Linked DNA regions of Homo sapiens: all the other regions are linked to region 3. Evidence: fine-mapped expression QTL. A gene starts in region 3. Each other region holds a variant in brackets. All regions are shown on one strand. Distances are between the middles of the regions.

Region 1 (5,812 bases), 110 kb before region 3:
CCTTCCAAGTAACTGGGATTACAGGCATCTGCGACCACACCGGGCTAACTTTTATATTTTTAGTAGAGACAGGCTTTTGGCCAGGCTGGTCTCAAACTCCTGACCTCAAGTGATCCACCTGCCTCAGCTTCCCAAAGCACTAGGATTATAGGCACACACCACCATGCCCTGCCCCAGGCTGGTCTTTGATTCCTGGACTCAAGTAATCTGATAGCCTCGGCCTCTCAAAGTGGTGGGATTACAGGCATGAGCCACTGCATCCAGCCTATTCGTCTTCTCTTGTCTTACCCTTGTTGCTAAGCCTGCCCCAGCTAAGGCCAGGGCACTTAGAAATGCTCGGGTATTCAGTATAAGTTGGAGATTAACCAATGTCAGATAACACCAAGTCAGGGGGTACAGTACCTAAACTGCATCAGCCTGAGCCTATAAATTTAGCAAAGGATGGAAAACTAGCAGTCTGGCACATTCTATTTGGCCAGTAGAACATTTTAAAATTTGTTTTAATTTAAATATCTTTAGAAAAGCTCCCCCACCATATTCACCATATAGGATAGTGTACCTTACCTTGCACAATAACCCCTTCCTATGTCACATGCCAGCCAAATGAAGTGTGAATGCCACATGAATTGATCCACCTCTGAGCCCTCTTACATTTTGCTTATTTGCCTTTAAGCAAAAATTTCATTAGATTTTCCCTGGAAGGAGCCTTCTTGGAATGGTTAAGTTTCATACAGCATCCCCTCTTTTCCTGGCTAGCTCTGAGTGTTTCCAGCTCCCGTATAGAAACCTGTTCTCCTCCACATGAAGGGGAGCGTTCGGTGGCTTCTAGGGTAGCTGTTGAGATAAGTATATTTCCTCTTACTTATCACCATGACAAGAGTAAAAGACAACTTACCTTTTGAAAAAAGTCTTCCCCACTTCTGCCTTTCCCTTCAGCAGCAGCTGTAAATAAAAATGTGCACATTTAAAATACTTTTTCAATGTATGCATTCAAAAAACTTTCGAGCATCAGATATGAGAATGCAAAAGCAAACAAGATGCCAGCCTTGCTCTCCCACAGCTCAGTGCCTGCTAATATGCCTCACTGGGATGCAAAACTGGTAAAGACTAGCAATCCAATCCATCAATTACATGTCTCTGGATTATTTAACACTCTTTTGCTTTGTCTGAAAGACTCACAAACCCCTGCACACTTAGATGATGAAAGTGATCTCGTCCTTTCATAGTTAAAGAACTATATGAATAAATGCAACTCTCAAAGTAATCAACTGTAGCATTCCAAGCACTTCCTATCTGTGATCAATCCCAGGCACAAAGATGGCTCATGTATATGGCCTACTTCTGAGCTGTTTCCATTTTATGCTTTATAAAGTCTATATAATCTACTTGAATTTCAGCTGGCATCATATACTTTTAATTCACTCCTTCATTTGTATATACAAAGAGAGAAAAAAAAACATGAGAATTAAACAGTAATGGTGACGGTCACAGCCAACAATAAAATTGCATGTAACATTAATTAAAATATCACTGTATTTTCATATCATTTTTATAGATAAATGGTAGCCCATAAATACAAGACAAACCCATTTCTCAGTCTGTGTTCATAAGTCTTGTGACTATGAACATTTTGTATTCATTTGTTTTGAGGGGTGGGGAATTTGACTAAAAGGAGAGAAGTGATAAAGAGCCAATAGCATCTTGCTTGCAACAGACTCAGACTGCATCTTTCTAAGGCCAAACAGGACTCTGACTCAGGTGTAGGTGGAATAGTGATTAATGAGAGAAGCCTGGCCAGGACAAAGAAAGGTACTGAAGTGAGAACTACTGGAAATTAAAGTCTGGAAGACCACGGTAAACCAAACACCTGCTAGGTAATACCTCAGCACAGCCATGTTTGTGTGCAGAAGTGCATATGTGTGTGTGTCCAGAACACTTGTTAAAATGACTAAAGACCCAAGAAATGTGGCAGAGCAATCACTTAAGAATCACATTTGTCACTTAGCAAGTTTTGACAAGCATCTACCATAATTTTGACATTGTTAAGTGAAAGATTCAAAACTTGGGAGGCCGAGGCAGACGGATCACAAGGTCAAGAGATCAAGACCATCCTGGCAAACATAGTGAAACCCTGTCTCTACTAAAAATACAAAAATTAGCTGGGTGTGGTGGTGTGCGCCTGTAGTTCCAGCTATTTGAGAGGCTGAGGCAGGAGAATTGCTTGAACCCGGGAGGCAGAGGTTGCAGTGAGCCGAGATTGCACCACTGCACTCCAGCCTGGCGACAGAGTAAGACTCTCTCAAAAAAAAAAAAAAAAAGATTCAAAACTTGAGAAATTCTCTCTGCCCTCAAAGAAATAACAAGTATTTACATTCTTTTTTCACCAACTTAAATTTTACAGTTAAATATAAGACATCTTCTCTATTTTTATAGAAATGTGTATTTTTTACCAACACATTTTTATCCAAACAACAGATTGCAGAGTACATGTTTCTGGAAATTCCAAGGGCAATCTGAGAAAACATAAAAACAAAGGCTAAAAAGGAATTTAAAAATTGTATTCTAATATGTGGTAGGGCTGAATAATGACTCCTAGCAAAGGTGTTCATGTACTAATCCCTGGAATCTTACACGGCAAAAGAGATTTTGTAGATGTGATTAAATAAAAAGATAGGAAGATTATATTGAATTAGCCAGATGGGCCCAATGTAATCGTGTCCTTAATGAAAGAAGGAGGGGGCTCAGAGTACAAGAAAGTGATGTAACAATGGAAGCA[C/AC]AAGGAGAGATGGATACATGACAACAAAGGACAGATCAGAGATGACAAAGATTTGAAGACAGGGGAACAGGCCATGAGCCAAGGAATGTAGGTGGCCTCTAAGAGCTGGAAAAGTCAAAGAAATTATCTTTCCCTATGGCCTCTGTAGAGAATACAGCTCTGCTAACACCTTGCTTTCAGCCCAGTGAAAACCACTTCAAATTTCAGACCCAAAAAGTAAGATTTCTGTTGTTTTAAGCTACTACACTGTGGCAACTTGTTACAGCAGCAAAAGCAAACTAACCTATAATGCTAATGTCTTTTTAACTTTTATTTTTGCACAAATTCCACATCATCAATAGGATGAACTGCACCCAGACACTGTGTCACGCCAAGTGTCAGGTTCCAGACCAAGCGGGAGACCAAGGGGAGGGGGTGGATGAATGACGAGCAGCTGAAAGAACACTCGAGGAATCATGGGGAGTTGTGACATGGCTTTATTCTCTCTCTTGGTGTGAGTGAGCCTGGGCGTGAACTGTGGGTGCAAACCTGGGCGCGAGCCAACCCAGGCGCAAGCCATATGTACAGCGTCAGCAGGATAATTATACCTTTTACAGACAATAGTGGCTCCAAGCCAAGCACGACCTCACATGGGTGATCACCTAATGCACCTCACGTGACGTGGTTATGTAAGGAGTGGAATTGTGTACATGCGCTCCAAACTCCAGACTCACATGCAAGACCGGATGTCTGCCTTGGCCTATTCTTGACCACAGCAGATCCATTTTCCTTACACTCCACCCCCTAGGCCAAGGGAGACATAGGCCTTGGACACACAGCTCCAACACACAGGCCTCATACATAGCCTCTGGGCATGCAAGCCAGGCCCCAGACACACAGGTCCGACACAAGACCTTACACATAGGCTCTAGGTACACAGGCCCCAGACACTCAGGCCCAACACATAGGTCTTACATTCCACCCCCTAGGCAGAGGGAGTTTTTCTAGTGGGGACACATGCCCAAAGGGTGAAACCCTGGACCCAGAGGCCACAGCAGTAATACAGGGAAAAACAACTCCAGGTTATGGTGGGCAACCACCCCATGGTGACATTACACCAATGTTGCTTTGTACATTTAGCCAAGCTTTTATTTCCCTGCCTTTAGGAGCACTGGGGCAGGCAACAACAGGTTACCATTCATCTCTGTACCTGGTCAGAGGAGGTCATCCTTCCTCCCATAGGTTTTGCCACATGGCTTGGCCCTATATGGGCCAGTGACCAACTGGCCACTTCTGTTACTTTTAGATAGTTAACCACAAGGCTAAGCCTCAATAAACTGCCAAGCTGTCGGTGCAGATTACCGTAGGTGTCACCACCTTGGTGATCACCATTCATGCTGTCCTGATTTCAGCCCATTAGCTACTTTGTCCACACTTGGTATCAAACCATATGGCGTCAGTACTAGAGTGAACTGTGACAGCAGTCCAGGCAATAGCAGCACCCCAGCTAGACCCATTCGTATACCATGCTCTATCAGGAATGGAGGGGTGCCTCAGGCCCCATGGCCTTATCTTCCATTAGGACTACAAGTCCCAAGACCTCTTGCAACTCTGCTGCTAAGGGACTTGTATTCAGTGTACTCTGCTGCTAAGGGACTTGTATTCAGTGTACTCTGCTGCTAAGGGACTTGTATTCAGTGTACTCTGCTGCTCCAAGTAGGCACCACACTTTGCTAAAGTGGATGTCTGTGCTAGCCCATTTCAGGGAGTCATTATCCATGAATGCATCCATCCCGCTATCAGCTAAGTCATCCGCACGACGACTGTAGCCCATCCTGCCGTACTCTCACGAGCCTGAAGGGCAGCATATGCAGTTACTAACTGCTTCTCTAACAGTGAATACTGGAGCGCAGCTCCTTTCCACAGTTGGGACCAAAAGCCTACTGGCATTCTCAAGCGCTCCATGCGCTGCTAAAGGCCCCAGCCAAAACTATCTGTGGTCACATGCACATCCAGCTCAAACAGGTACCCCTGGTCAACTACCCGTAGGGCTTGTGCCTGCTGAATAGCCCACCTGGCTGCCAGGAAGGTGGTCTCAGCCGCACCATCTTAAATCTAGGCAAGGGGAGCATTGTCACTTCTAAATCTGCAAGAGAATCAGAAGTTAGCATAATATCATTAACAAGACCATGACATATGGTGGGGCTATGCACATAGCCCTGCAGCAACACTGTGAAAGTCCACTGTTGCCCTCCCATGAAGGCAAACTGCTCCTGGCTCTCTGGAAAAGAATGCATTGGCCAAGTCCACCACAAAGTGGTACTGTCTCAGTTTTGTCAAGCCCACTGATAGACAGCATGGCTGCCAAGCCATGTGAAATATCCATGCCCAAAACGTTATCTGTGCTGGTGTCTACCAGCACCAGCACTTGCTATATGTTGGTGGGGTAACAATGGACTGTCAACTCCACATGTGGCCTCCAGTCATCTGGTGTTCCCCTAAGTCGAACCTCAGCCAGTTCCCTCATCATACAGAAAAGGCTTTACACCCCCACCTGGCTGTAGCACATACGGAGTCTTTGAGCTGAAGCGCCCAGGTGGGACCAGGTTGTGCAGCAATGTCCTTCTCCCATTGGGGCATTTTCTGGAATTGCACAAAGTTAAGAGTACTTCATTTGGCTGTTTATCAATTTTCTCTCAGTCAATCCTGGCCAAAACCAAATCAATCCACATCTCTGAGCATGTCACTTGTTGGGGCCCCCTGTTCTCCAGTGGGGGGACCCCTGCAGGCAGGGCATCTTCCCCTTCTTTATGGAGCAGACCCCTCGGTCTCACTAACAGCCTCCTCGGTATCAGAGTGGGGGTCTCCAGCTGAGACGACAGCCCCAGGCCTGCATTCACAGCAGCCTCTAATTCCTTTTCCGAGCTCTGTAGCCTGGCCTCCAGGCACCCTGCCTGCACCTGAAGGTCCCCACTTACGGCAGCTTCTAAATCTTTTGCTGAGCTGTGTAGCCAGGCCTCCAGGCACCCAGCCTGCACCTGGAGGGCCCTTACTTCT
Region 2 (5,812 bases), 48 kb before region 3:
GATATTTGAGATGATCAATATTAACTGCCTGCCACCTGTAAAGCCAAGGACAGCCCCACTGGTTCAGACACCATGATCAGCAAGCACTTCAAGCCTCACTGAAAAAGCCAAAACCATTTTCTCATTTATGGACTTGATTTATAGCCATGGAAAATAAACAATAAATGAGAGCAAAGCATTCTGTGACTTTCCTTCAAAACCATTTAATTTTTTAAACAGTCAAGAAAAAGAAAAGGAAAAAGAAGAGTGACCAAAACAATACTCAAAATTACTATGTTGTATGTAAATTTATAACAAAAATATAAAGTTAAAACAAAAAATATTTTAAATTAAGATTAGCTTAAAATATAGTGTTCAGCTTTCACTCTCCTTCAACTTTGGTCACATATTTATCACAAAATATCACAAGACTTTTATTTTTCTACTTGAAAGACAAAAGAAAGAGCCGTACAAAATAAAATGTGGCATAGGATACTATCAGCAATTAAATATATGTGTTTGAGTACTCAAATATGCAATCTACTTTTCACGGCAAACATTAGAAAAACTGGCAACTTTTATCAAGAAATTTCAATCACCCCATCATATTGCTAAACATTTTTATCACTTATAAAATTGCAATCCAAAGAAAATTTATTTGCTGTTGCTAAGAGACATGAAAGGAAAACTTTAAAACACCCCTTTGTCTCTGATTTTCAAAGTACATGTAGTCAAAAGCAAAGAACATGTCATCATCAATGGCTGAGTGGAGGTGTCCAGTGCTAGCCTCTTCCACAAAGAACCAAAACAACAAAGAGATAACTGCACTTTGAGTAGAATGTCTAAGAGAGAACACTGCAAGTTAGCAAGGAAGTGGCAAAAAGCCTCTGGACACAAAAACTCAGGATAGTATCACAGAGAAGGAAGTAAAGCATCCAGCAAGGATTGGCTTGAACCAAGAGGAACTCTCCATTGTGGAGAAAAGGTAAGAGGTAGCCTCCGTTGCCACCATGGATGCCTGCAATGCTTGCTATAGGAAAGCCCCACAGTCCTCACAGAGGACTAAGCGGAGTACACTTTAGTCAGGGTACAGGGAGCTGCCTAAAGTTAACATGGCTGCACTGCTCCCCAGAGAAAACTCATGCTGGGTCTCCCCCGCAACCCCCAGGACCCAGGCTGCTGCGGCACAGAGCCATATTGAGAGATGAGCTACTACCAGAGTGCATCTTTCCCTGGGGCCTAATATCCCTGCAATTCCATATCCCTGTGACCCCTCCACTATCTCACCATGCCTACAGAGAAGGCTGCAGCACAATGATGCCACCCTGAACCCAGTGGTACGGCAATGACTCAGGCATGCAAGCCCATACAGCAACCTGTATACCAAGAAGCAGTGGCCCAGCATAGAGAGGAGACTACCCTCAAGACCAAGGGAGCCCCTATACGCTCCCAAGGACCTGAGAGTCAGCCTGCCTGGCAGGCCCCACACCAAAAAAGCTGTGCCACTGCCTACAGAAACACCCACAGCCCAGGCCACTGAGGCACTTGCAGACACAGCTGACACTGAATACGCCAAAGAAAGCACAAGAAGACAATACTGTTCCAATCCAGAACTAAAATGAAAACACTCTACCAAACCAGCACTACAAGACACATAAACAGAAAAAAAAAATTATCCTTACAAAAACTACATAAAATCAGAAGCAGTGAGCACAGATATCAATGTAAGACCACAAGAGAAGTGAAAAGCAAGGAATATGACACCTCCAAAGGAAAACTATTCTCCAGTAACTGACACCAAAAAAGGAAATTTATAAAGTGCCTGAAAAGGAATTCAAAATGATGATCCTAAGAAAACTCAGCAAGATACAAGAGAATACAGACTGAGAATTCAATGAAAACAAAAACAATTCATGATCTAAATGAGAAATTCAACACAAATAGATATAAAAAAGAACAAAACAGAAATATTGAGGTAAAGAATTCAATGAATGAAATAAGAAAACAAAATTAAGAGCTTCAACAATAGACTAGATCAAGCAGAAGAGACTGATTTTTCTAGGAAGAATTTCTAAAGATAAAAATGGGTCTTTTGAAATAGTCAAGTCAAACAAAATAAAAAGAAAAAACAATAAAAATGAATGGAGAAAGCCAATAAGACAATGGAACACAAATAAGTGAACATATTTTCGCATTATAGGAATTCAACAAAGAGATGGAAAAAGGTATTGAAAATATATTTAATGAAATACTAGCTGAAAATATCCCAAGTCATGGAAAAGATACGATAGCTCAAAAATCCTTAAGTAAATTTAATTCAAAAAAGTTCTCTCCAAGGCACATTACTGAAAACTGTCAAAAGTCAAAAACAAAGAGAGAATTTTCAAAACAGCAAGAGAAAAGCATGAAGTAAAAAGGGACTCCCCATCATACTAACAGCAAATTTATCAGCAGAAATGCTACCAGCAAAAAGAAAATGGTATTATATATTCAAAATGCTGAAAGAAAACTGCCAGCAAAGAATACTGTACCCAGCAAAAATATTCTTCAGAAATGAAGAAATAAAGTCTTTTCTAGACAAGTAAAAACTGAAGAAATCCATTACCACTAGAGCAACCTTATAAGAAAGGCTTATGGGAGTCTTATATCTGGAAGTAAAAGGACAAAATTTAACATCATGAAAGCATATGAAAGTAT[A/G]AAATTAACTGACAGAGCAGATACACAAGGATGAGAAAGGAATCAAACCCTATCACTACAGAAAACCACCAAAGATAAACAATAAGAGAGGAAGAAAAGAACAAATGATACACAAAACAACCAGAAAACAACAAAATAACAGGAGTGTGCTCTCACCTATCAATAGTAATCCTGAATATAAATGGTTGGTTTCAATTCTCCAATAAAAGATATAGAGTTGCTGAATAGATTTTTTTAAAAAAAGAAACAAGACCCAGTTATATGCATATAAGAAACTCATTTCACCTATAAAGAACACACAGACTGAACATGAAGGGATGAACAAGAATATTCTACACAAAGAGAAACCAAAACTAAATGGGAGTAGCTATATTTATATTAGATAAAATGAATTTTTAAGTCAAAAACTATAAAAAGAGAAAAAAAGTCATTATATAATGATAAAGAGATCAATTCAGCCAGAAAATATAATTATTGTAAATATATGCACCCAGCACTGGAAAACCCAGATACATAAGCATGAATTAATAGATCTAAATATTATTATATTAAAAGGGAGAGACAGGCCCCAATACAATAATAGTTGAGGACTTCAACACTCTACTGTCAATATTGAACAGGTCATCTAGATAGAAAAATCAACAGCAACAAAAATCAGTCTCAAATTGCATCACAGACCAAATGGACCTGACAGACATTTACAGAACATTTCATCCAACAGCTACTGTATACACATTCTTATGAGCACATGGAGAATTCTCCAGGATAGACCAGATAATAACCCAAAAACAAGCCTCAACCTATTTTTAAAAATTGAAATCATATCACAATAGAATAAAACTAGGAATAAATAAGAACTTTGGAAACTGTACAAATAAATGGAAATGAAAATATGTTCCTGAACACCAGTAGAGTCCAGTAGAGTGATGAAGAAAAATTAAGAAGAAAACAAAAAAAATTATTAAACTAAAATACAAACACAACATACCAAAATCTATGGGATACAGCAAAAGCTGAACTAAGAAAACAGTTTACAGCAATAAACACCTACATCAAAACAGTGGCAAGACCTGAAATGAACAACCTCAAGGAATTTAAAAAGCAAAAGCAAATCTTTCCTTCTACCAAAGTCGGTAAAAGAAAAACAAATTTAAAGATCACAGCATAAATAAACAAAATAGAGACTAAAAAAATACAAAAGATCAATGAAATCGAAATACAGTTGTTTGAAGAGATAAACAGAATCAATAAACCACTAGATAGACTAACCAGGAGAAAGAGAGAATACCCGAATAAACAAAATCAGAAATAAAAGAGGAAGACATTACAATTGATAACACAGAAATACAAAAGATCAGCGCTTGTTATGAACAACTTTATGTTAACAAACTAGAAAACCTAGAGGAAATGAATAAATCCCTTGACACATACAACCTATCAAGATTGAACCAGGAAGAAATAGAAAACTTAAACAAACTAATAATGAGTAAGGAGATTGAGTCAGTAATAAAGTCTCCTAACAAAGAAAAGCTCAAGAATGGATGACTTTCCTGCTAAATTCTACCAAACTTATAAAAAAACTCACATTTATTCTTCTCAAATCACTCCAAAAAATTGAAGAGGAGGTAATTCTTCCTAACTCATTCTATGAGGCCAGCATTACCCTAATACCAAAGCGAGACAAAGACACTGCAAAAAAAAAAAGAATACTGCAAGCCAAAACCCCTGATAAACCTAGATGCAAAAATCCTCAACAAAACACTAGCAAACCAAATCCAACAACACATCAAAAAATTACACAACATGATCAGGTGGGCTTTATCCCAGGAATACATGCAAATCAATAAACATGATATATCACAAAATGAACAAAACCTAAATGATTATTTCTATAAACACAGAAAAAGCATTTGATAAAATTCGACATCCCTTCATGATAAAAATTCTCAACAAATTACACATAGAAGGAATGTACCTCAACACAATAAAGGCCATACATGACAACCCCATAGCTGACGCCATACTGAACAAGGGAAATGTGAAAGGCTTTCCTCTAAGAATTGGAACAAGAAAAGGATATCCACTTTTACCACTCACATTCAACATAGTACTGGAAGGCTTAGCCAGAACAATTAAGGAACAGAAAGAGCATCCAAACTGGAAACAAGGTAATCAAACTGTTTCTGTTTGCAGACAATATAATCTTATATACAGAAAAACCTAAAGTCTCCACCAATTCTTAGAACTGATAAATGAATTTAATAAAGGTGTAGGACACAAAATCAAAATACAAAATTTGGTAGCATTTCTATAAAGCAATAATGAAAGAGCTGAAAAACAATTCAAGAAAGCAATCTCATTTACAATATCTACTTACCAAAAAAAAAACACAAATGCCTAGAAATAAATTTAGCATGCAAAAAGTGAGTAAGCATGCTACCATTTTTCAGTTCTGTAAATCCTTTACAACTTTAATTTTAGTATTTCTCAGCATTGTGACTGAACACTGAGATTTCTGCTATATTTTACAGACTCTCAGATAAGTCATTATAAATCTCCTAAATATATATAAATACATTATTTTTCGGGGCTCAATTATGAAAGTAAAAGTCCTGGGGGGGTGGTTATTAATTAAAACACATCATGAAGTTAGCAACAGCAACAAGTACCACAAAAGGCAATCCTAAGTGCTATGGTTTGAATATTTGTATGGTTTGAATATTTGTATCATCTCAAAATTCATTTTTGAAACATACTCTCAAGGTGATTGTATTAGGAGGTGGAACTTTGGGAGGTGATTAAAGTGTAAGGAAAGAGCCCTCATAAATGTGATCAGTGACCTTATAAAAGAGAACCCAGGTAAATGCCTTGCCCTTTCCATTATGTGAGGATGCAGCTAGAAGGCATCATCTATGAGGAACAGGTCCTCATTAGACACCTATACTGTTAGCACCTTGATCTTGGACTTCCCAGGCTCCAGAACCGTGAGAAATAATTTTCTGTTGTTTATAAACTGCCCAATCTAGGGAATTTTTGTTACAGCAGCACCTGTGAACTAAGAAACTAAGAATGTTGCTTAGAGTTAAGATTAAGATCTCATAGGCAAGAGACATACTCTGCCAGCCAAGATAGAGAA
Region 3 (5,812 bases):
TGATTTAAATTGGAAACCTGTACCTATTTTAAGTCAATTGTAAATAGAAAAATAGCACACCCAAATTCACAATAATTGAAAACTCAAATACAGACTTTACTTACTTGGCACTTTTCAAATAAAAAGCTTTCCACCCAAGAATATCTAACAATATTAGAATGCTTATTGACTTGATAGACTTACTTCTTTAGTTTCTATTTTACTTCTGCAATTATGAACCTGCAAAATTATTTTGTTCCCCAACTATTTATTAAGTATATACTATATTTCATACATTGTGGTAGGCACTGGAAATCCTTTTAATCCATGATGCAATATTTATTATTAATAATAACAACAGATATTCATTAAGTTCTTATCATTGACCAAACACTGTGGGCAAATGTTAGCTTGTTAGGCATTATCTCTTTCGATTCTCCCAAAACCTAAAAGGTCCTAGTATCAGCTCCATTTTACAGATGGGCAAACTGAAGGCAAAGAGAGGCCTAGCAACTTTCCTGAGATCCTACAGAGTTTTGAACCCAGGTATTAGTGATCCCAGTGCTCACACTTGTGTTTTGGTCAACAACTAACCACATACACTACAATGGTCCCGTAAGATTATAAAGAAGCTGAAAAATTCCTATCGCCTAGTGATGTCATAGCCATAGTAACATAACACATTACCTTTCCAATGTTTAGATATATTTAGATACACAAATACCACTGTGCCACAACTGTCTACAGTATTGGGTATAGTAACACGCCTTGTAGCCTAGTAACATTATTTGTAGCCTAGGAGCAATAGACTATACCATATAGCTTAGGTAGTAGGTGTAGCAGGCTACACAACCTAGGTTTGTGTAACTACACTCCATGATGTTTGCACAATGAAAATGCCTAAGGACACATTTCTAACAAGGTATCCCAGTCGTAGTCCTTAAGCATGGACTGCATGACTGTATATCGGTTGTTCAAGAGATGTTAAGACTTTCTGTAAAAGAAACTATTACTGCAAAGCAATTTCAAACCGTCTCAGATCGTAGTATCACATCTATTAATACAAAAGAGCCTTCAAATTTTCAAAAAGTCTCCTCAAAATTTCATTTTATTCGAAGTGAAAATGAATTAAATCAAAAAAGGAAATTCACTTCTAAAGCTCAGGTTATACACTTGAACTTCCCAGAAGCTAACATCACTGTCCTTACTTGTTTGTGCGCAGGTGAAACAGATCATTCTTTCATATCACTCCAAACTAATGTAGAAAACTGAAAGCTGGTTGAAAAGGATGAGTATGTGCTACTATCAGTTCATTCCAAACGATCTCACAATATATGCCTGACATAAATTTAATATTTTGTTTTATAATCATAAACTAGGCAAAAAGAACCACAGAACAGACGAAATAACTGAAATGAGTTACTGAAATGCAACTGGGGCTTTAATTTCCAAATCTATCTTATAACGGTCTTACTTGAAGAGTTTATCACAGAAGTAACTGTCCTCAAAAGTTACATAATTTGAGAAAAAAAGAGAGGGAAGGGGAGAGACAGAGAAAGACATGACACACATTAGGGATGTTTGTCAATAAAAATAAGCAACAAGGGAGGAAAGCCTGTAGCACATCCAAAAAACGTCTGCCAAACACTCTTGCTATTTGTTTCCACCAAGTTATTGTTTTGGAAAACATGTTGTTCTCTCTTAAAATAACCTGCTTAATTGTTCTAAAAAGCCACTGCATTTCCACAGAGGGCTAAATCATTCCCATACTGCGATGCATTGACTGATAAAGTCAAAGTAAGTTATGCATAAAGCCACAAATAACGTTTGAAAAACTCCAAACTCCTCCATGATAAAAGAACACTAGCTACTGAATGAATCTTCACCAGCGCCCTAAGTGAGACTAACGCCTGGTCCCGTACACGTATTTTAAGAATAACAGTCATTCAAACTAACTCATTTCTCTCTTTGGATGTGGGAAATGAGCCACATCGGTGGCTACAGGTAGGCTAGTAATTATCTGTTTTAAGAAAGGTCAAAATGACCTTGGACGTTTTGACGTTCACTCCAACACTCGTATTATAAATCAGAATCTGTTTTCGGTCCAGTATGGTTGAAGATTTTCTACCTGGGAAAGTCCCAAAGAAATTAAAGAGTTAAAAATAATTCTAAGTTGTGAAAGACAAAGTCAGACACCCATAGCATAGGAAGATTTTTATGGACTGAATGTAACTCAAGATGTGTTTTATAAGCCTGTCAAGAGATGAACACTGTCCTCAAACACAGCAGCACTGCCTCCACACTCCCCCCTCGCTTTGGCTGCTCACCCCGATCCTGGCCCTCCTTGACCACAGGGGTGGGGGCGGGAGCTCCTGTCTTAAGCCTTGACATCTGCAGAGCGTTTCCCAATAGTGAGACAAGGCCCCTCAGCTGGAGGAAGTGGATACTGACAAGGGGAGAGAGTGAAACAGACGGAGAGAGACAGAACTCGAGGCTGCCAGGGAATGGGGAGGGTCACGCATACTCTGTGCGGCCCGAGTGGTCCGGATGGCACAGCCCAGGTGTCCGGGCTAAAGTTGGCATCTCCAAAGTCCAGAACGCAACTTGGGCGCGCCAGTACAAACTCGGCCTTCGGCTTTTCTGAAGCCAGTCAAGTTCGCACAGGGCCCCCAGCGCCTGGAAATCTGAGAGGCGTGGAAGGGTGGGGAGTCCCGCGAAGTCTCCAGTCCCTGGGTGTCCTCCGGCTCCGCGGGGGAGCGGGCCTGGAGCTAAACCGGCCGGCCGTAGGCTGGAGTAGCGGGCGCCGGAGCGCGCGGTGGGGATGTCCGAAAAGGAGTTAGAGGCTCAGTCGGAGAGTCCGAGAACACGAGGGATGCCTACCTTGTAACATGGCCTCAAGTTTCTTCCTGTCCACGCGGAAGCGCTCCTCGCTCCACTCCGGGCTGTGCAGGGTCGCCCCGGCGACCAAGTCGTCCTCGGAGCCGGGCACTGGGGAGTCGGTGCTGCGCTCGCTGTTGGAGCCGGGGTCCGACTGCGCCGCCAGGTAGCCGGGCTCTCCCTGGGCGGCCATGGTGGGCGCGCAGCGCTCGGGCTCCCGCTGCCGCCGCCGCTCTGCCTGCGCTGCCGCCTCCGCTCGCCGGCCGGGCTCAACTGGCTCCCAGCGCCGCGGCGCTAGCTCGTCCCCCTGCAGCCGCCGACGCCACCGCCAACGCCGCCGCCGCCACTGAGCCCCCGGCGCATCCCAGCCCCGGGCGCCGCCCACGCCACCCGCCACCCCGGGTCGCGGCCCCGGTCCGGGTCCAGTGGCTGCGCCGCCCCCCGCCAGCAACGCCCGCGCGGAATGAGCGCGCCGCGCTGCCCGCGCCTCCATCCGCAGGGCTCGGCGCCCCCTCCCCGCCCGCCGCCCCTACAGCCGCGCGCTCATTGGCCCGGCCAGCCCACGGGGAGCCGCGGCGGGCGGGCGGCCCCTGGCGCTCACACACTCGCGCGCGCACACACACACCACGTACACACTGCCACTTTCTGCACTTACACGTATAAATCCTTTCCATACATGCACTTTCATAGCTCCTCAAACACACACACTCCTGAACGCACATGGAGTATCCACGTAATTCCTGTCTACACACACACATCACACACACTACTACTTTTCTGCACTTACACATACAAATCTCTTCCCCCTACATGCTCTCATAATCCTCCAAACACACAAACACAAACACGCCAAGTTCAAGCACAGCAGAGTCCTGAACGCACACTAAGCGCATACACAATTCCGCTGTTTACATACATACCCTACACCCTGAAACTCACAGCCCCAGTTGGTTCCACAAGCTCGAACGTGAGGAAGAGGAAAAAGAAGGCTTGGAGAAGAAATCATGCCCGTCTTTCGCAGGCATCGCCATGGACGTGGCTCGCATGTAGTTCATACCTCCAGGAAGGGCTCAAACCCAGACACCTCGTCTCCTCCCAGCAAAGTGGCCCGCTGCACGAGAGGTGGACAAGAGGCTTACTCTTTTTATTCTGAGAAAGGGAATTTTTTTTTTTCTTGAATGGAGTAAGGAAGGAATTGTTTTCTCTGTGATTCTCAAGGAATGGACTCAGCAGACTTTTTTTTTTTTTTAAGTAGAAAAGGGGCTCGGAGATCGCTGTGTTGGCGAGCTGGATCCAGCTGGCACGTGGGCAGGGCTGTCTTGTCAGGGACTGAGGGCTTTTCTCTGTTTTCAAGGTCAGTCTCTGACAGATGACGGCCAGTAACCTCTGAGCCTCACTGCCGAGGGCCAGCCCACCCACGGCCTCTGTCAAGCTTGGATATGAAGCGCGGGGGAAGAGGAGACTCGCTCGTACTGGGTGTGCCCTTGGAACTCTGTTTTCCCAGTTCACACAGATTCATAGCCTATTATTTTATGACCCAAAGTACAAAGACTTGCGGGGAGGAATGATGGGGATAGCAGTTTGTCACTGCGCCACAGAAGGAGGCTGCCTGGCTCACATGTAGGAAGAGCCATATCACTGGCACAGGCCTCTGGATAATCATGGAATATGCTGAAGGTAAATCAAAATTATTTCAGGTTCAGCTGCCTAGTTAACAGGAATTGACCCTGTGATGGGTACAGATGAGGAAACTGAGACCGTGGGAAATAAAGTAACTTGACTAAGGTTGTCCAGCAGCAGATAATACAGCCAATTAATCAGACCCAGGTCTGTGGGTCTTTATATAAAGTCTTACCTTTTTGAGCGGAGACCCCTCCTGCCCAGAGTCACCTCCTGAAGAACTGAGAGCATCTGCACACTTAACTGCTCTGATTCACCACCATGTGTTCCTTTTATAAACTTGTTAATTACTGTTAATTTCTATCCAAGGCACTAGTTTCAGCACCCAAAGGGTTTATGTAGGAGCATTCCCACTGTTTTCCATCAGGGACATTTACTGTGTTTTTCTATCAACAAATATTTATTGGGACCCTACTATGTACTTGGCACTGTTAAGCCCAAGGAATAGTAAGCAAAGACAGACACATCCCTGTACTCCCTCCTGGAGCTGAAATTCTAATGAGAAGGAATACTGACCAAAAAATAAATCACAAATATAAAATCATGCCCGCAGTAAGCATTACAAACAAGAGACTCAAGATATGAGAAAACCTATGATAGAGTAATTGGATTCAGTCAGAGAGGTCAGTGAAGGCTTCTCGAAACAGTGACTCTAACTCAGAACAGACGTTGGAAGAGAAGTTAACTAGGCAAGGGAAGGAAGAGCCATCCCTGCAAATGATCATCTGATCATAGTAACATCCCTGAAGGTAGATACTACAATTATCCTCATTTTAGAGTTGAGGAAACTGAGGCACAAAAGGTAAAATGACTTGCTCAAGGTTGCACGACTAAGTTGAAGAATAAGAATTTGAACCCAGGCAGTCTCTTGAAAATTAGGCTTCAGGTGCTTTATGCTTAGCCAATAAGTTATATTGGCTCTCAATAAGATTAGCACAAGTAAAGACACTGTAGCAGAAGGGGGCAGTATGCATTCCCCCATTGGATGAACTAAAAGAAGGCCAGCGTAGCTGGTACAAGGAAACAAGGAATTAGGACTCACTGGGGCAGGAGTTATAAGTAAGAGGGGGCATATGTAAGCAGCATAGGTCAAATTAAGGAGTTTTTGTCTTTATCCTTAGAATAAAAGGAAATCATATAGAGGCTGTAAGTAAAGAAAGATGTGCTTAGATTTGCATTTTCAAAAGTTGACTATGGCTCTAGTGTGGAGAACAGACTGAGGGACAAGGATAGATAGAAGCAGTTGGACCAATTAAGAGACTATATGGGAAGTTTA
Region 4 (5,812 bases), 79 kb before region 3:
CTCGTTGATCTGTCTAATATTGACAGTAGGGTGTTAAAATCTCCCACTATTATTGTGTGGGAGTCTAAGTCTCTTTGCAGGTCTCTAAGAACTTGCTTTATGAATCTGGGTATTCCTGTGTTGGATGCACATATATTTAGGATAGTTAGCTCTTCTTGCTGCATTGATCCCTATACCATTATGTAATGGCCTTCTTTGTTTTGATCTTTGTTGGTTTAAAGTCTGTTTTATCAGAGCCTACGATTGCAACTCCTGCTTTTTCTGCTTTCCATTTGCTTGGTAAATATTCCCCCATCCCTTTATTTTGAGCCTATATGTGTCTTTGTACCTGAGGTGGGTCTCCTGAATACAGCACACTGATGGGTCTGACTCTTTATCCAATTTGCCAGTCTGCATCTTTTTATTGGGGCATTTAGCCTACATTTAGGTTAATATTGTTATGTGTGAATTTGATCCTGTCATTATGATGCTAGCTGGTTGTTTTGCTCATTAGTTGATGCAGTTTCTTTATGTTGTCGATGGTCTTTACAATTTCATATGTTTTTGCAGTGGCTGGTACCAGTTGTTCCTTTCCATTTTTAGTGCTTCCTTCAGGAGTTCTTGTAAGGCAGGCCTAGTGGTGACAAAATCTCTCAGCATTTGCTTGTTTATAAAGGATTTTATTTCTCCTTCACTTATGAGGCTTAGTTTGGCTGGATATGAAATTTTGGGTTGAAAATTCTTTTCTTTAAGAATGTTGAATATTGGCCCCTACCCTCTTCTGGCTTGTAGGGTTTCTACGGAGAGATCCGCTGTTAGTCTGATGGGCTTCCCTTTGTTGGTAGCCTGACCTTTCTCTCTGGCTGCCCTTAATATTTTTTCCCTCATTTCAACTTGGAGAATCTCAAAATTATGTGTCTTAGGGTTGCTCTTCTCAAGGAGTATCTTTATGGTGTTCTCTGTATTTCCTGAATTTGAATGTCGACCTGTCTTACTAGGTTGGGGAAGTTCTCCTGGATAATATCCTGAAAAGTGCTTTCCAACTTGGTTCCATTCTCCTCGTCACTTTCAGGTACACCAATCAAATGTAGATTTAGTCTTTTCACACAGTCCTGTACTTCCTGGAGGATTTGTTCATTCCTTTTTATCCTTTTTTCTCTAATCTTGTCTCCTCTTTTTATTTCATTAAGTTGATCTTCAATCACTGATATCCTTTCTTCTGCTTGATGGATTCGGCTACTGATACTTGTGTATGCTTCATGAAGTTCTTGTGCTGTGTTTTTCAGCTCCAGCAGGTCATTTATGTTCTTCTCTACCCTGGTTATTCTAGTTAGCAATTCGTCTCACCTTTTTTAAAGGTTCTTAGCTTCCCTGCATTGGGTTAGAACATGCTCCTTTAGCTTGGAGGAGTCTGTTACTACCCACCTTCTGAAGCCTACGTCTGTCAATTTGTCAAACTCATTCTCCGTCCAGTTTTGTTCCCTTGCTGGCAAGGAGTTGTGATCCTTTGGAGGAGAAGAGGCGTTCTGGTTTTTGGAATTTTTAGCATTTTTGCGCTGGTTTCTACCCATCTTTGTGGATTTATCTACCTTTGGTGTTTGGTGTTGGTGACCTTCGGATGGGGTCTTTGAGTGGATGTGCTATTTCTTTCCGTTTGTTAGTTTTCCTTCTGACAGTCAGACCCCTCTGCTGCCAGTCTGCTGGAGTTTTCTGGAGGTCCACTCCCGACCCTGTTTGCCTGGGTATTACCAGGGGAGGCTGCAGAACAGCAAAGATTGCTGCTTGATCTTTCCTCTGGAAGCTTCGTCCCAGAGGGGCACCTGCCAGATGCCAACCAGAGCTCTCCTATATAAGGTGTCTGTCGGCCCCTACTGGGAGGTGTCTCCCAGTCAGGATACAAGGGGGTCAGGGGCCCACTTGAGGAAACAGTCTGACCCTTAGCAGAGCTTGAACACTGTGCTGGGAGGTCCACTGCTCTCTTCAGAACTGTCAGGCAGGGACATTAATTCTGCTGAAGCTGTGCCCACAGCCACCCACTTCCCTAGGTGCTCTGTTCCAGGGAGATGGGGGTTTTATCTGTAAGTTCCTGACCTGGGCTGCTTCCTTTTTTTCAGAGATGCCCTGCCCAGAGAAAGGAAATCTGGCAGTGTGGCCACAGCAGCCTTGCTGAGCTGCAGTGGGCTCCACCCAGTTCGAACTTCCCAGTGGCTTTTTTTACACTGTGAGTGTAAAACAGTCTACTCAAGCATAGGCAATGGTGGACCATTGCTGAGGACACCCCTCCCCACACCAAGCTCGAACGTCCCAGTCAATCTCAGACTGCTGTTGTGCTGGCAGCGAGAATTTCAAGCCAGTGGATCTTAGTGTGCTGGGCTCTGTCAGGGTAAGACCCACCGAGCCCGAACACTTGGCTCTCAATGCAGAGGATTTTTTTTTTTTTTTTTTTTTTTTTTTTGAGACGGAGTCTTGCTCTGTGGCCAGGCTTGAGTGCAGTGGTGCGATCTCGGCTCACTGCAACCTCCACCTCCCGGGTTCAAGCAATTCTTCTGCTTCAGCCTCCTGAGTAGCTGGGACTACAGGTGCACGCCAACAGGCCCAGCTATTTTTTTTTTTTTTCACACGGAGTCTCACTCTGTCACCCAGGCTGGCGTGCAGTAGCATGATCTTGGCTCACTGCTACCTCCGCCTCCTGGGTTTACGCCATTCTCCTGCCTCAGCCTCCCAAGTAGCTGGGACTACAGGCACCCGCCACCAACCACGCCCATCTAATTTTTGTATTTTTAGTAGAGACGGGGTTTCACCGTGTTAGCCAGGATGGTCTCGATCTCCTGACCTCGTGATCCGCCTGCCTCGGCCTCCCAAAGTGCTGGGAATACAGGTCTGAGCCATTGCGACTGGCCCAGAGGAATTTCTTAAAAATTATTTGAAGGGTTTATAGAGGGAAACAAAAACAATGTCATAGCAGACTATTCTCTAAAGATATTAACTCAGTTCTAGCTGTTCCCAGTTGTCTCCACCACCACCTCTGCCTCCCTAACAAGAAGAAAAAATGGGCAATGACAAAATAGGGCAAAGAACATTATCCTAACTTTAGCCAAAAGTAATACTCGGCTATACAGGGAATACTGCTTGTTATTTCTCATCACAACACATAACAAAAAACCGTCTTCAAATAAGGGTAATTAATACAGTAAGTAAAATGTATGTTTTTCCTCTAATAAACTTTGTTGTGGAAATTTTCATTGCAGCAAGGATAAGTTAAAAACATTATAAAATCACATTTATAAAATTATAAAAGGTATGGAGAGAATACAAAGATGTGTCATATTCTGGAAAGTATATTCTGTATTACTCTATATAATCTAGAAAAACAATAAACAACACCACTTGAGAAACATTGCTAAGCACAACTTTATATGTGGTTAGC[G/A]AACATTAAACTCAATTGCACAGGCCAGAAATAGAAATAGGTACAAGAATTCAGAGCAATTCATTCATTCAACCATCCGTAGAGGAAGGATGTAAATTATAAAAAGCTGAGTGCTTGCAGCACATACCTAAACTCTTGAGAAGGCAATGGCCTTCCTAAAATCATAATATTGAGAGAACAGAGCACACAGCACAACAAAGCTCTCTCACTGCATCTCCTAAATCTCCCCATCAGTTAAGCTTAATTTTCCACTGTGGTCTGAATGCCTGTATCTCCCAAAATTCATATGTTGAAAACCTAACTCCCAAGGTAATGATACTTATCAATAGGTGGGGTCTTCAGGAGGTGGTTAGGTCATGTGAGGAAGCATTCAAGAGTGGGATTAGTGCCCTTATAAAAGAGAACCTAGAGAGGTCCTTTGCCCCTTCCATCATGTGAGGTTACAGAGAAGGCACATCTTTGAAGGCCAGACGCTTGATCTTTGACTTCCCAGCCTCCAGAAGTGGGAATTTTTGTTCATTATAGACCACCCAGTTGATGGTATTTTGTTATAGCAGCCGGAATGGACTAAGACATTTCCCATAGTTTTTACTATGCTAATGACAGGTAACATGAATCTGTTTTTCCGTCTTGACCAAAGAAAGTGTCCCCCTTTCCCTACCCAAGTCACACTTGTGGAGAAGAATATCAAGCTGGACTGAATCCTCCCTAGCACTGCTTATCTTCTTATGACTCAACAGCATCTAAAGCAACGTTAGCAAACATGTATGTGGCACCTTCAAATACATGATGCTAAGCAGATGTGCAGAAAAGAAAAAAAAATGCTGAGCCAGGTGTAACTAATGAAGGTCTATTTCCCAAACTGGGAAGTGTCTATTCAGGCCTTTGAGGGAAGGGAGGGGGGAACTAGTAGAAAAGATCATTGAACTAGAAAAGGCAAAGCCTGAGAGAACCGGTGGTCAAAGATCAGTTTTGTAAAAGCAAAACCCTACATTTTTAAAGTAAAACATTTCCCACTGTTTCCTAAGGATTGGCATGTGGTTATATTCTACACTTCTGCACAATCTTATTTTATTTATGTGGATCATTTGACAGGCAGCTGCCTTTTTAAATAGATAATCTAAAATACCTATAAAACTACAACAATGGGGAAGGATCTTAAATGCTGAGGTAAGTGAAGCCACTTTCACTAGAGAAACTTGGAGCACTTTCCATTAGGCTGTGGATTTGCAGTGAGAGAAAAATTTTTTTTTAAGTCTGGTAGAATTTCCAAGCTTCTGTCTTTCAAATAAAAGGGAAATACACTCACTTCCCAAAGCATCTATCTTTACAAGAAATTCAAGTACTGTAATTATCATAGCCTTCTTCAATACACACTTCAAATTTCTTGGCACTAACTGGAACTGAAAGCACCAAAATTCTCTTATTAAGAAGAAATTTTAAGAGATACTCTAAAATGGGGAGAGATTTGTTTTTAATAGACTTCCTTATAATGAGTCATTTCATAGAGAACTCTAGGATGGGAGCCAAGAACCAGCAGACACAACTCCTTAGCACAAGCAGGCAGTTTACATCCAATCTGGTCAGAGATGTCACGATTCCTGCTTCCAGTCAAGGCCAGACTGCGCATAGCTAGGCAAGGGATAGGCACTTAGTCCTTAGTCAGCAACAGCACTGGTTTTGGCAACTTATGTATAAAAGACAAATTTCTCCTTCATAAAAACAGTCCCATCAAACTCCCCTAAGTCCATTAAAATCAAGACTTCTGCTCCATGCTCAATGAATTTAGTAGAGATAGAATAATAACATACCATTCATAACCCCACTGGACTGATGATAGCTTATTGTTAATCCCATATGAATAAATGAAATTGTAGATTTCCTGGAAATAAATACACATGGGTGAGGATAGGAACAAAAGCTGTATAACTTAAGCCAGGCAAAGGGGTGTGCATATATGGTCCTAGCTACTCGGGAGGCTGAGGCAGGACGATCGCTTGAGGCCACGAGTTCAAGGCTGCAGTGCACTATGACCATGCCTATGAATAGCCACTGCACTCCAACCTGGGCTACATAATGAGACCCCATCACTAAAAAAAATAATAATAATAATTTAAAAAATTTGTAATGGCTGGGCACAGTGGCTCATGCCTGTAATCCTATTGTTTTGGGAGCCGAGGCATGAAGATCACTTGAGACCAGGAGTTCAAGACTGGCCTGGACAACATAGCGAGACCTTGTCTCTACCAAAAATTAAAGAACAAAATCAGCAGGCATGGTGGCATGCACGTCTAGTCCCTGCTACTTGGGAGGCTGGGGCAAGAGAATAGCTTGACCCCAGGCATTCAAGGTTGCAGTGAGCCATGACTGCACCACTGCACTCCAGCTTGAGTGACAAAGTGAGAT

Which allele goes with the higher level. Alleles are on the strand shown, and positions count from the first base shown. SD is a standard deviation of normalised expression in the study named. Not every link is listed here.
As copies of AC replace C in region 1, the expression in sun-exposed skin of the gene that starts at base 3,321 in region 3 goes up (small effect, 0.27 SD a copy in GTEx).

Evidence for each region. PIP is the estimated chance that this variant, and not a neighbour inherited with it, causes the effect.
Region 1: its variant is the best candidate, but not a certain one, in a credible set for the expression of BICC1 in sun-exposed skin (GTEx, PIP 0.55).
Region 2: its variant is the best candidate, but not a certain one, in a credible set for the expression of BICC1 in blood mononuclear cells (TOPMed, PIP 0.61).
Region 4: its variant is the best candidate, but not a certain one, in a credible set for the expression of BICC1 in blood mononuclear cells (TOPMed, PIP 0.53).

The regions. Positions count from the first base shown.
Region 1 is chr10:58,615,985-58,621,796 of GRCh38, reverse strand. BICC1 (BicC family RNA binding protein 1) reads right to left here. Exons shown (of 21, transcript NM_001080512.3): 2 at 896-942. Among named protein-coding and RNA genes, the nearest start is that of BICC1, 110 kb to the right of the region's middle. The variant C/AC (reference allele first, on the strand shown) is at 2,777.
Region 2 is chr10:58,558,592-58,564,403 of GRCh38, reverse strand. The region is part of intron 1 of BICC1 (BicC family RNA binding protein 1); the gene reads right to left. Among named protein-coding and RNA genes, the nearest start is that of BICC1, 49 kb to the right of the region's middle. The variant A/G (reference allele first, on the strand shown) is at 2,677.
Region 3 is chr10:58,510,381-58,516,192 of GRCh38, reverse strand. BICC1 (BicC family RNA binding protein 1) reads right to left here and starts at 3,321. Exons shown (of 21, transcript NM_001080512.3): 1 at 2,860-3,321. The coding sequence starts at 3,049. It overlaps LOC124902427 (a long non-coding RNA gene), which reads left to right and starts at 4,141. Exons shown (of 2, transcript XR_007062147.1): 1 at 4,141-4,533.
Region 4 is chr10:58,589,498-58,595,309 of GRCh38, reverse strand. All of the region lies in intron 1 of BICC1 (BicC family RNA binding protein 1), which reads right to left. Among named protein-coding and RNA genes, the nearest start is that of BICC1, 80 kb to the right of the region's middle. The variant G/A (reference allele first, on the strand shown) is at 3,407.